2 separate regions of the Homo sapiens genome follow, and region 1 is linked to region 2. The links come from fine-mapping of genetic effects on gene expression. A gene starts in region 2. The other region holds a variant in brackets. All regions are shown on one strand. Distances are between the middles of the regions.

What was found. PIP is the estimated chance that this variant, and not a neighbour inherited with it, causes the effect.
Region 1: its variant is fine-mapped to the expression of IL1RAP in whole blood (TOPMed, PIP 0.92).

What each region holds. Positions count from the first base shown.
Region 1 is chr3:190,567,890-190,572,889 of GRCh38, reverse strand. The region is part of intron 3 of IL1RAP (interleukin 1 receptor accessory protein); the gene reads right to left. Among named protein-coding and RNA genes, the nearest start is that of IL1RAP, 56 kb to the right of the region's middle. The variant G/A (reference allele first, on the strand shown) is at 2,232.
Region 2 is chr3:190,510,862-190,516,395 of GRCh38, reverse strand. It overlaps IL1RAP (interleukin 1 receptor accessory protein), which reads right to left and starts at 2,311. Exons shown (of 12, transcript NM_002182.4): 1 at 2,177-2,311. RefSeq lists enhancers at 1,121-1,620, 1,621-2,122, 2,875-2,964 and a silencer at 2,375-2,724.

The DNA of each region.
Region 1 (5,000 bases), 57 kb before region 2:
TCCGTCTCAAAAAAAAAAAAAAAAAAAAAACAAAGCATTAACCCTGGACATGCTGACCACTCTCATGGCTGTAGGGGCACTAGATGTAAGGAAACTTCTGGAATATTTAAGGTTTCTATTTTCTCTCACCATTTTAATATACTCGGAAGGAGGGAAAGAGTAAGAATGTAAAATAAACAAACAAAAAAACCTAGAAAACATTAACTGTTCAAAAAGGAAACCATTCAATGCAAAGCTCAGGAAAAAAAGGGGGGAGTATTTAAATGTGGTATTAAAAATGGTTTAGCTTCTTTGGTAATCTGAAAAAAGTATATAGCCGGGTTTACATCAGATCCAGGAAACCCGTGTAGGAATATTTTATCTCTATTTTTCTCTTTGCATTTTATGCCTCTCTCTCTCTTTTTCCTACTATCTCTCTTTTTCAAAAAAAGGTCTCTCTCTCTCTTCCTCTCTCCCTCATTATTCCTCTTTTCTCTCCTTCTTCTCTTTTTTCTTATTTGCCTTTACCTTGAGTGGACACCAGAAAATGACAAAAAGACATGTAGAATCAAGCTGTGAATGTCAAAATATCTGTCATATAAGAAATTCAGTTTTCTCTAGATGACCAGATAAATTTAAAAATTCAAAAAACATTGAAAATATAAGAATAAAATTAATGTTTTCACTCTAAAAATCAAACATCAGTCCATTAAGCAATTTTGGGATAGTCTGAAGTCCCAAACGCTAGAGAAGGATAGGGCATTCAGGTTAACTCAGGTGCATCAATTTAAAGCTAGTAGGTTTTTGCATCTGGTCATCAGATAAGTCTATGGCAAACAATTAAAGATTTCTCCCCCTTGAAAAAAAGGGCAAACAAAACTACAGTAAATAATAATTAATAATGGTTGGTATCCACTTGGGAACAATAATTTGTATATCTGTTTGCCTTAAAGCAGATGTGTCCAATCTTCCGGCTCTCCTGTGCCACTTTGGAAGAAGAAGAATTGTCTTGGGCCACACATAAAATAAGCTAACACTAACAATAACTGATGATCTAAAAATGAAAATCACAAAAAGTCCATAATGTTTTAAGAAAGTTTCAAAATTTGTGTTGGGCCATATTCAAGGCCGTTTTGGGCTTCATGTGGCCCGCGGGCCACGGGTTGGACAAGCTTGCTTTAAAGTGATAACAGTGAATCTAAAGTCTTCTCACTCCAAAAATGGTAACTATGTTAGGTAATACATATGTTAATTAGCTAGATTTAGTCATTCCACAATGTATAAATACTTCGAAATGTCATTTTACATATGATAAATACAATTTAATCTCTCATCTAGTAATAATAATAAAGGTCTATATTTCAACTATAGTTGTACTTTTTTTTGAGAAAGAGAGAGACAGGGTCTTGTTCTGTCGCCCAGGCTGGAGTGCAGTGGCGTGATCACAGCTCATTTTAGCCTTTACCGGCCAGTCTCAAGTGATCCTCCCACCTCAGCCTCCTGATTAGCTGGGACTACAGGTGTGCATCACCATACTCAGCTATTTTTTTAATTTTTTTTTTGTGGAGTCAGGGTCTTATTATTTTGTGCAGGCTGGTCTCAAACTTCTGGCCTCAAGCAATCTCCCCACCTCAGCCTCCCAAAGTACTGGCATTATAGGCATGAGCCAGTGTGCCTGGCCCATAGTTATACTTCTTATGCAAGGGTAAGTAATTAGGAAAAAATAAAACCCACCATAATAAATTAATAAAAAGCAATAGTTAACAGAAAAAATCACACATAAAAAAAATCATGATCGATGTGCCTGTTTTCTTTTTCTTTCCTCTTGAGTATCTACACGTATGCAGTAGGTCCTGGAGAAGGTTCCACTGAGGAAACGTAATTGGCAAATAGACTAAATTGGTCAGTCTTGGTAGCACTGGGTGGCAAGTCCAAATCTCAAAGAGACCATAACATTTTCTTACATAAGGGAAGGGGGAAACGCAAACACCAGTATCTTGGTGCACATATCAAAATGAACACTACTATAAACCTTAAAGAGCACTTTAAAAAAAATATGAAAGTAGCCTGCCATTCCAGCACTTTGGGAGGCTGAGGCAGGCAGATCACCTGAGGTCAGGAGTTCCAGACCAACCCGACCAACATGGAGAAACCCCATCTCTACAAAAAAATACAGAATTAGTTGGGCATGGTGGCAAATGCCTGTAATCCCAGCTACTAGGGAGGCTGAGGCAGGAGAATCACTTGAACTT[G/A]GGAGGTGGAGGTTGAGGTGAGCTGAGATCGCACCATTGCACTCCAGCCTGGCAACAAGAGCGAAGCTCCGTCTCAAAAAATAAATAAATAAATAAATAAATAAATATGAAAGTATCTCAGAAGTAAAAAAAAATGGGCTGATGGATAAGAGCCTTAAACTATTTCAGACCCTACAAACACTGCAGAAAAGTGCTATTTATTTCCCAGTAATGTATAGCTATACCAAGCATTTTGGTTCCTATGGTAGAAGGAGAAATGAATGTCATAAAACACAACAGAATATGGTCTAGGTTGCTGAGGAAGTGATTATTTTATTTATTTTCTCTCATTGTCGTAGTCATCTTGCATTTTCATTATTCCCACTATCTCTAAAACACGCAAAGGCAAAGCCAGAAAATTTTGTACATCAGCTTTTATAGGTTTGGATAGCAGGTAACTTGAAGGTGACTGAGGTTCCCAAATTATTTGTTAAATGTATCCATTTTCTCACTGTTCCTCAAAAATAAATGAGAGATGGCAGCACTCAGTGGATTTAAAAATAAAGCAATCATTGTGTTGTTATCCTGGGTGGGTATATATTTTATTTTCTAAAAAGTTAATCAGTTAAACAGAAAAGAAACTTTTTAAGTGGTGAAAGAAAAGTGGGTAGAAACTGGTCTTGGTAGTGAGTCACTGCTAAGGTGGCAATCTGGTCCCTAAAATATGGTAGAAATGAATATTCAGGGTTGGGGGAGTGAGGGAAAGGATAGCAAAAACAAAGGTAATTCAAAGGGTAGAATAAATTCTTGTAAAACAAACATTTTTTCCTACAACGGTATGCAGGAGTTCCTACAAAAATACTGGTTTCCTTTAACTAACACAGCCATGTGAAAAAGAACCAGGTCATTTTTCTAAACTTAGAATTATCACTGTGATACAAGAAGCTGTGTATTTGCAAACTCAGTATCAAGCCAATTATGTGGTACTTAAATTTCTTTTCAATCAGGCTACAGTAAATCCACCCTTGGGAAATATAAGTAACTAAAATATAAGTGTGCTTCAAGCTATAAACACAGCTAAAGAAAAAAAAAAAAGTGAAGAGATCTGCTTCCGAGAGGCATCATTTAAATGACAACAGGGTGAAATTCTGTAATTCCAATGACCTTTAGGACTAAGAATAAAATGAAACAGTATTCTTCATACATTTTCCAAATGTTTGGACTAAATTACATAGAAATGAAGAGTGTTCAGGATGACCAGCCATGGGCAACTGGGACAGGACACAATGTCACAAGTATATCTGAGCACGGAGTTATTAAAGCAAGGATATTCAAATAAAATGAGGCCACTGGGGCTGGTAACAAACTGAATTCTTACCAAAAGGTGAAAGAACCATCACATAGAATTAATAATAGTGTATGTCCTTGCAAAAATACGACAGAATTTAAAAAAAGGAAAAGAAACCTAGCCAACTATAACCAAAATACATTAAATGTGGACATTCTCTTTACCTGAAGTAATTCCCGTCCTGCATAATTTGTTCCCAACCTACCTTTCCAGCTTGGCTTCTAAATGCCTTTGCACTATCTTTTGAGTTGCCCTGAACTATTTCATTCCCAAATAAGAGATGCGTTTCTTCCTAGGAAGGAGCAATGATTAAGTCTTCCCCAATATCTCCTGATAGGATTGGTAACTTTCTCTGCTCTCACGGAATTCTATTTGGTAATTATTTCCTCTTCCTTCTCTCAAACTTTACTGTATTCCTCTTAAAATAAGAAATTCCTCTTACTAACCCTGGATTCTACAATCTAAAATGGTCAAACGCATGATCTTTAGAATAAAGTGAAATCATTGTTAACATTGTTATTAGAAAGAATTTAAGTAGCTAATAGGAGTATACCCTGTGTGTGTCCATGATGCATAGTGTTCCTTCATAAAAATCAAGAAACTGGAATTGACTGGGATCTGCTGCTATTGTTTGTTAATTGTTTGGTTGGTTGGCTTGGTTTATAAATAAGGATGCAATGACAAAAAGTGATGAAATGACCCCTTTACTGTCATCAAACAAGTCACAGAGTAAAACAGAACTTGAATCTCTCAATTACTAGGAAACCACAGTGTTTTTTACTATTTATTTATTTTGCATTGTATAATTCACTCCCAATCATTGGATAGATGATTTCCATTCTCTACCAATTTTGTAAAATATAATGGAAAAGGAATCAGAGGATCTTACTTCTAGTAGCAGAGCACAGTCCTAAAGAAAGGCAATTATAGTATGGAAAAATAAAAAAGAGCACTGTTTCTGGAGTCAAGGCAGCCTGGCTCTATCAGGCAAGCCAGGCTATCATGAGCACTTGGGCCACCTCCCTGGATCTTCATTTCCTAAACTATCAAACAGGTAGAAGAGTCTCCAGCCCCTACCCCTGTACAATGGTTCCTGCGAAGTTCCTGATAATGTGTGTGAAATCCAGCCCTGCACCTGGCACACAGTCAACTGTTGACTTTGAAATAAAATCTTTCTCAAAGATCCGTGTGTGTGCCTGCATTTTGGGGTGGCAGTGTACTCTCTTTTTCATGTGATTTGTCCAGCAAATAATTTTGATATGGTAATATTTTTTAAATTCACTATATTCTATATGGTGCTATTTTTATTACCTCCTCAACTTGGGATCACAGGTTCCAAAATTTATGTCTACTCCAAAGGCAGCTTTTAACAGTTCAGCTTCCTGACACACTGCCAATGAGGCACAGCAAAAGAGACGTGTATTGAGCTGAAGTTTCCATTT
Region 2 (5,534 bases):
TCCATCCTCATGATCTGACCTTATTTTGAACATTTTCCTTTTCCCCCACAAGGCCCCTGTCTCTCAGGCACACATTCAGTCATATCCCAGCCAGCTCACCACAATGCATGTACATGGAACAAGCTGATAGAAGCAGGTGATCCCATCCTTTACTAATGCTTGGTGCGGGAGGTACTTAAGTGGGCACCACTGGGCTCTTATCTTCCATCAAGATGTATCACACTCTGTTCTCAAGCACTTACCAATACTGCATACAAATGCTATGGCCTGTGAAGGAGGCAGCCAACTACAAATGCTGGACACTCAATTTAAGGACGCATGGCAAAGCCAGTAGATAGTAGTAAATTATTGCATGAAGTTCATCAGAATAAAATCAATTGTCATGAGAAGGGTTAAGGGTGTGGGAGGGAATCCATTTAACTTTAAAATACCAATAATACAGGAAGACTAGTGTGGGCATGTGAATGTCTGTGTGTTCGTGTTTAAATAAGGCAAGTTTGTGTCCAGAAAGGTTTGCATTTAGCAGCATCTCTGTACAATCCAAAAGAAATATATGAGAATTTTGTTTGTTTTCTGATACTAGATGAAAAATGTAAGGTTGCTCGACTGACCTAAGAGAGCAAGGATAGAAGGCTTAGAATAATCTGTAACACAGCTGCAACTTCCAACTTTGTCTTCTTGTCTTTCTGCCTCTCACCCATTTCAAGACCCTCTTTGTCAATAAAGGATGTCTCAGATCAGGGCAGTTCACAGGCCTGAGGTTTGACCTAAAAACTAGTAGGAAATTCATATCACCGAGAAACATCAATTTTACATTTCGAGCTAAGCATCCATGATCCACATCACATATGGACAACATTCAGAAAATTCTTATTATAAAAGAGTTGCTCAAATTCAAAAGAAGAAAGACACCACATTTACAGATTTTTTTAAAATGCCTCTGTAAGATGGTATGAAATCACCTTTCTGAAAACCCACTGTCTGCAAGGTTACTATGTAACAATATTTACAATAGTTGCCATTGGTTTTGAACCAACCAGATGCCAGGCCAGGCACTGTGCTAAACATGCTACTTGAATGATCCCATTTCATCCTTCCAACTACCCAAAGGGCTCATTGTGACCATTATAAATCTCCATTTTTTGGCTGGAAAAAAAAAAAAGGAAGAAAGAAAGAAAAGAAAAACCCAGTATCGGAAAGGTGAGATAACTTGCCCAAGTTCACACTGCTAATACATGGAAGAGCTGGAGTCAAAACTCAAGTCCTCTTTCTCATCCAGTAGCTAAACCAGGGATCTGTACAGCAGAGCAGCAGAATGCTTCGCGTGGCGCCCTGGTTCACAATTTCACAACCAGAAGGTGGAGGGAAGACAGGCTGTGGGCTAGCTCTTAAAGGAAACAGCCGAAGTTTGCTTTTATGTTTGTGATTTTCTCTTTAACTCAGCTTCCTTGCTCCCTCTCAGTATTTAGAAGAGGGAAGGGGCTCTATGGTTCCATGAAGTCAGCTCTTCCCAAGTGAGGGGCACCCTGTGCCCCACAGGGCCACTAGCTCCGCTTCCTCCGGGGCTGGGAAGAAACAGTACCATAGGAGGTCACTGGCGCCCGGGCCTCGCTCCTCTCTCCCCGCGCTCCTCCAGAAGCTGGTCCGACACCCTCTGAAGGGGCATCTTTCTGAGAAAGCAGGTCAGGGGAAGAGGGAGTGAGGCTGCAAGCAGCATTTTCCCAGGCTGTCACAGCTCTGCGCTGAGAGCGACGTGATACCGAGTGGGCGTGCTGGGACACACCGCTTCCTTCTGTCCTCGGCGCTTCCAGCAGCGGTCTGGAGAAACCAAGGAGGAGATGGGGGCGGGGGGTGGTAGCGGGGAGGGGGCGGTGAGGAGGAAAACAAGGGTAGACCCCTCAAAGGGCTGAGGATGGGGGCGGCAACGAGCAGACGTCCCACAACCGCGTTACTTAAATCCCTGCAAAGCAAAGATGGGTCTCTGAACGTTTGGGTTCGAATCCGGGCTCCAGTCCTAACTAGCAGTATGACCTATCCCAGCCGCTGCCTCGTTCTGTGCCTCAGTTTCCTCTTCTGTAAAGTAGGAGGGTTTAACGATAGGATCTCTAAGAATCCGTCTACCCTGAGATTCTGCGGCTTGGTGACTTCTGAGCCCTCACGGCGGCGCGAGACTCACCTTTCTTGGGAAGCTGAGAGGGCGCAGCAAAAGCAGCCGGGATGGGTGCAGTGTCGCCGGGCACTGCTTCCTTCCGCGCCTCTGGCCAAAGCGGACCCCGGAGACCTGGATCCCGGCAGTCTTCCCCAGTGAGCCTCTTACTTTCCGCCGCACTTTCTTTTCCCCCTTTGGGGCTCCTCCCCCGGAGCGGCGCGATTGGCCACGGCCTCACGGCTCAGGCTCCACCCGCCGCCTTGGCTCGCGATCCACCGGCGCTCTGGGCTTCCAGGAGCTGCGGCCGCGGGGCGGCGTCCTGGACGGTCCCGCCCGCCGCCAGGAGGCGCGGCGCCGGGCCCGCCTGCGGACGGATGCAAGGCTGCGCTCGGCCCCTTCGGCTCCCTGCCACCGCCTGTGCGGGCTTGAGCGCGCGGGGAAAGGAGAGGGTTAGTCCTGCAGCGCAGCTCGGCACGCTGCCAGGCGCTGTGGGAAGCTACGCCCCTCACTACACACCGAGGCGCACACATGCGCTCATTGCAAGATCGTGCTCTCGCAGTTGAGATCGGTGCCACCCTGCCCTTTCTTCCTGTCTCGACGTATTTAGCAATCATGCTGCAAGGCCTTGAATCAATTCAGACTGCACGATTTTCGCAACCACCCTGTGCCGGCACAGAGCGCGGCAGGATGTAGATGCGATCTCCGCAGTCCTGAGCTCTTGCTGTCTTGAACTGACATTCATATGAGCAAGCAACAGGACATGACAGCAAGACTAAATCTGTATTGTCCACTGGTAATATACCCATTGCCTAGCACAGTGCCTGGCACAAAGTAGGCACTCAATACATGTATGGGGAACGAATAAAAGAACTAATAGGTTACATAGAAGGAAATAATCTCAAAACAAATATTTGCCTTCATTCATTTCCATTTCCCCAAGTTTTTGCAAGAGCCTTCCTTCAGCTGCCCTCTGCCACTGTAGATGGTAGTCTGTAATATATCCCGGGAAGCGTTATAAAGGCTTTCATTAAGTCATCTCTCTTGTTCAGGCACCTTCTGCTGTGTTCCTACTGCTAGTGCCTCATGATTTTTCCTGACTGGCAAGGCCCTTCATGACCTGTCCCCATTTCTGAAACCCCCTAACCAAAGCCACCTACCAGACTGACGAGTCTTCGCACATCTTCTTGCTCATCACATCTTCTTTTCTCCTCCTCCTACCTAACTGAATCCTACTAATTTATTTTCAAGAATCAAGATTCAGAGAAAGCATTTAAGGAAAAGGAGAAAAAAGATGTGAAATAAGAAAAGGGCCCAGGTGAGTGGGAAGGAAATGAAACCAGCAGGTGCCCGTGCTGCTAAAGGTGCACAGCAGTACGAAACTCAGAGGCTGCCCCTGCCCTGGCGGAGCTTCAGTTCCTAAGGTGAAATATCAGTGTAATTGGAGCCATAGAAATGTTCATGATACTTTACTTCTTGACATCACTTATGAAAATTAATTGCTCAAAATTTTTATTTATCTCAGGATACCTGGGACCCAGCACCTGCTCACAACATTGTCACTGAACCAAAGAGAAAATAATCCAAAAGAATTTAAAATGTTACCTGTATGAAGCAACAATAAAACATTTTCTGATTTATTATTCATTCCTTAAATATATTCTGGGCACAGACTTTTATATATATATAGTACACTGAAGCATTTACACAGTGCTTACAAAATAAAAAGGTGCAATCATAAGGACTTTGTGTATATTAATTCAGGTAACCCTCAATACAACCTGGAGGGTGCTATTATTATCTCCAGTTCATAAAGGAGATAAAGGGAATTTAAATAACTTGACCAAGGCTACAGGCCTACAAGTGGAGAATACAAAATGAGACTAGAGACACTCGACGTTCATGCTCTCAGCCGCTACTCAGTCTCATGTACTACCTAGAAGCCAAACAGATGCTAGTAATTCAGAATTGAACCAGATGTATATTCCCGGACATTGAAGGGCTACTCATAGCTTAAGGAAGATAACATTAAGATGAATAATCATATAGACAAATATTCATAGTATATTGTAGTTTGAACACAATATAAATGGTTGGAAATGAAAATGATTAGTTAACCAACGCTGTCTACGCACAGAATAAAATATTTGCATCATAACTATCATATTATGGAAATATGTCTACAAAGAAAAAGGCTTACAAAATAAGGTTGAGTAAAAGTTGTGGAGAGATGAACACCAATTGAAAGGAATGTGAAAAAATGTTGATATGTTAGGATTACAGAAATAGAAACATCTCTTTTTCCTTTTACATTTAAGTGAAATAAACCAAGCACAGAAAGACAAATTTTGCAAATTCTCACTCACACGTGGGAGCTAAAAATTAAACAAAGGAACTGAGATATGAGAGTAGAATGATGGTTACCAGAGGCTGGGAAGAGTAGCAGAGGCAAGGGAGTTGTGGGGAAGGGAGGATGGTTAACGGTTGCAAAAATATAATTAGCTGGAATGTATAAGACCCAGCACTTGATAGCACAACAGAGTGACTACAGTCAACAATAATTAATTATGCATTTTAAAATAAGTAAGAGTGAAATTGGAATGTTCCTCAAAGAAGTGACAAATGGTCAAGGTGATGACACCCTGTTGTCATTACCCTGATGTGATTATTACACATTGTATGCATGTATCAAAACATCACATGTCACCCATACATATATACACCTATTATGTACCCGTAATAATTAAAAATGAAAAAATGTTATGCTAACAATTGAGAAAAATATTTTAAAGCTATACCCATTAAATATCCATCACATACTAAACATTTGATGAATAATAGTTGCCTAAATGAATAAATGAAGCTACAAATTCATTGATGTCAGTGACTAATACTGCTGGATGTATAGAAGATGCACAATAAAATATTTTGCAATTGATTGATGTATTTGGAAAGGTATTATTATTCTCTTCTTCTCCCAGCTTTTACCCTCCACCTTTTTTTTAGGTTATCTTTAATTATCTTGCTGTAGCTGTAAGACGCATCAGGAGTTTGCTAGTCTCTTGAACCCAATCCATTCAGACATTTATCTCTACCACTCCACAGTCAGCATCTGTAATGATCTTCACTTTGCCAAATGTGGTGATCAATTCTCTGTCTTCATTGTACATGTATCAGCAGCATTAGACACAGATAATCTGTTGCTCTTTCACACTCTCTCGTACTTGACTCTTTGTTTTTCATGTATTTCATCTGCTGTTCCTTATCAGATTCTTATTGAATCCTCTACCTCTTCATGATCTCTGAAGGTTCCAGTGTCCTAGAGCTCAATCCTTGAAGTGGTTATATTCTCTACCTAGGGGAACTCAGACAGACACATGGCCTTCTA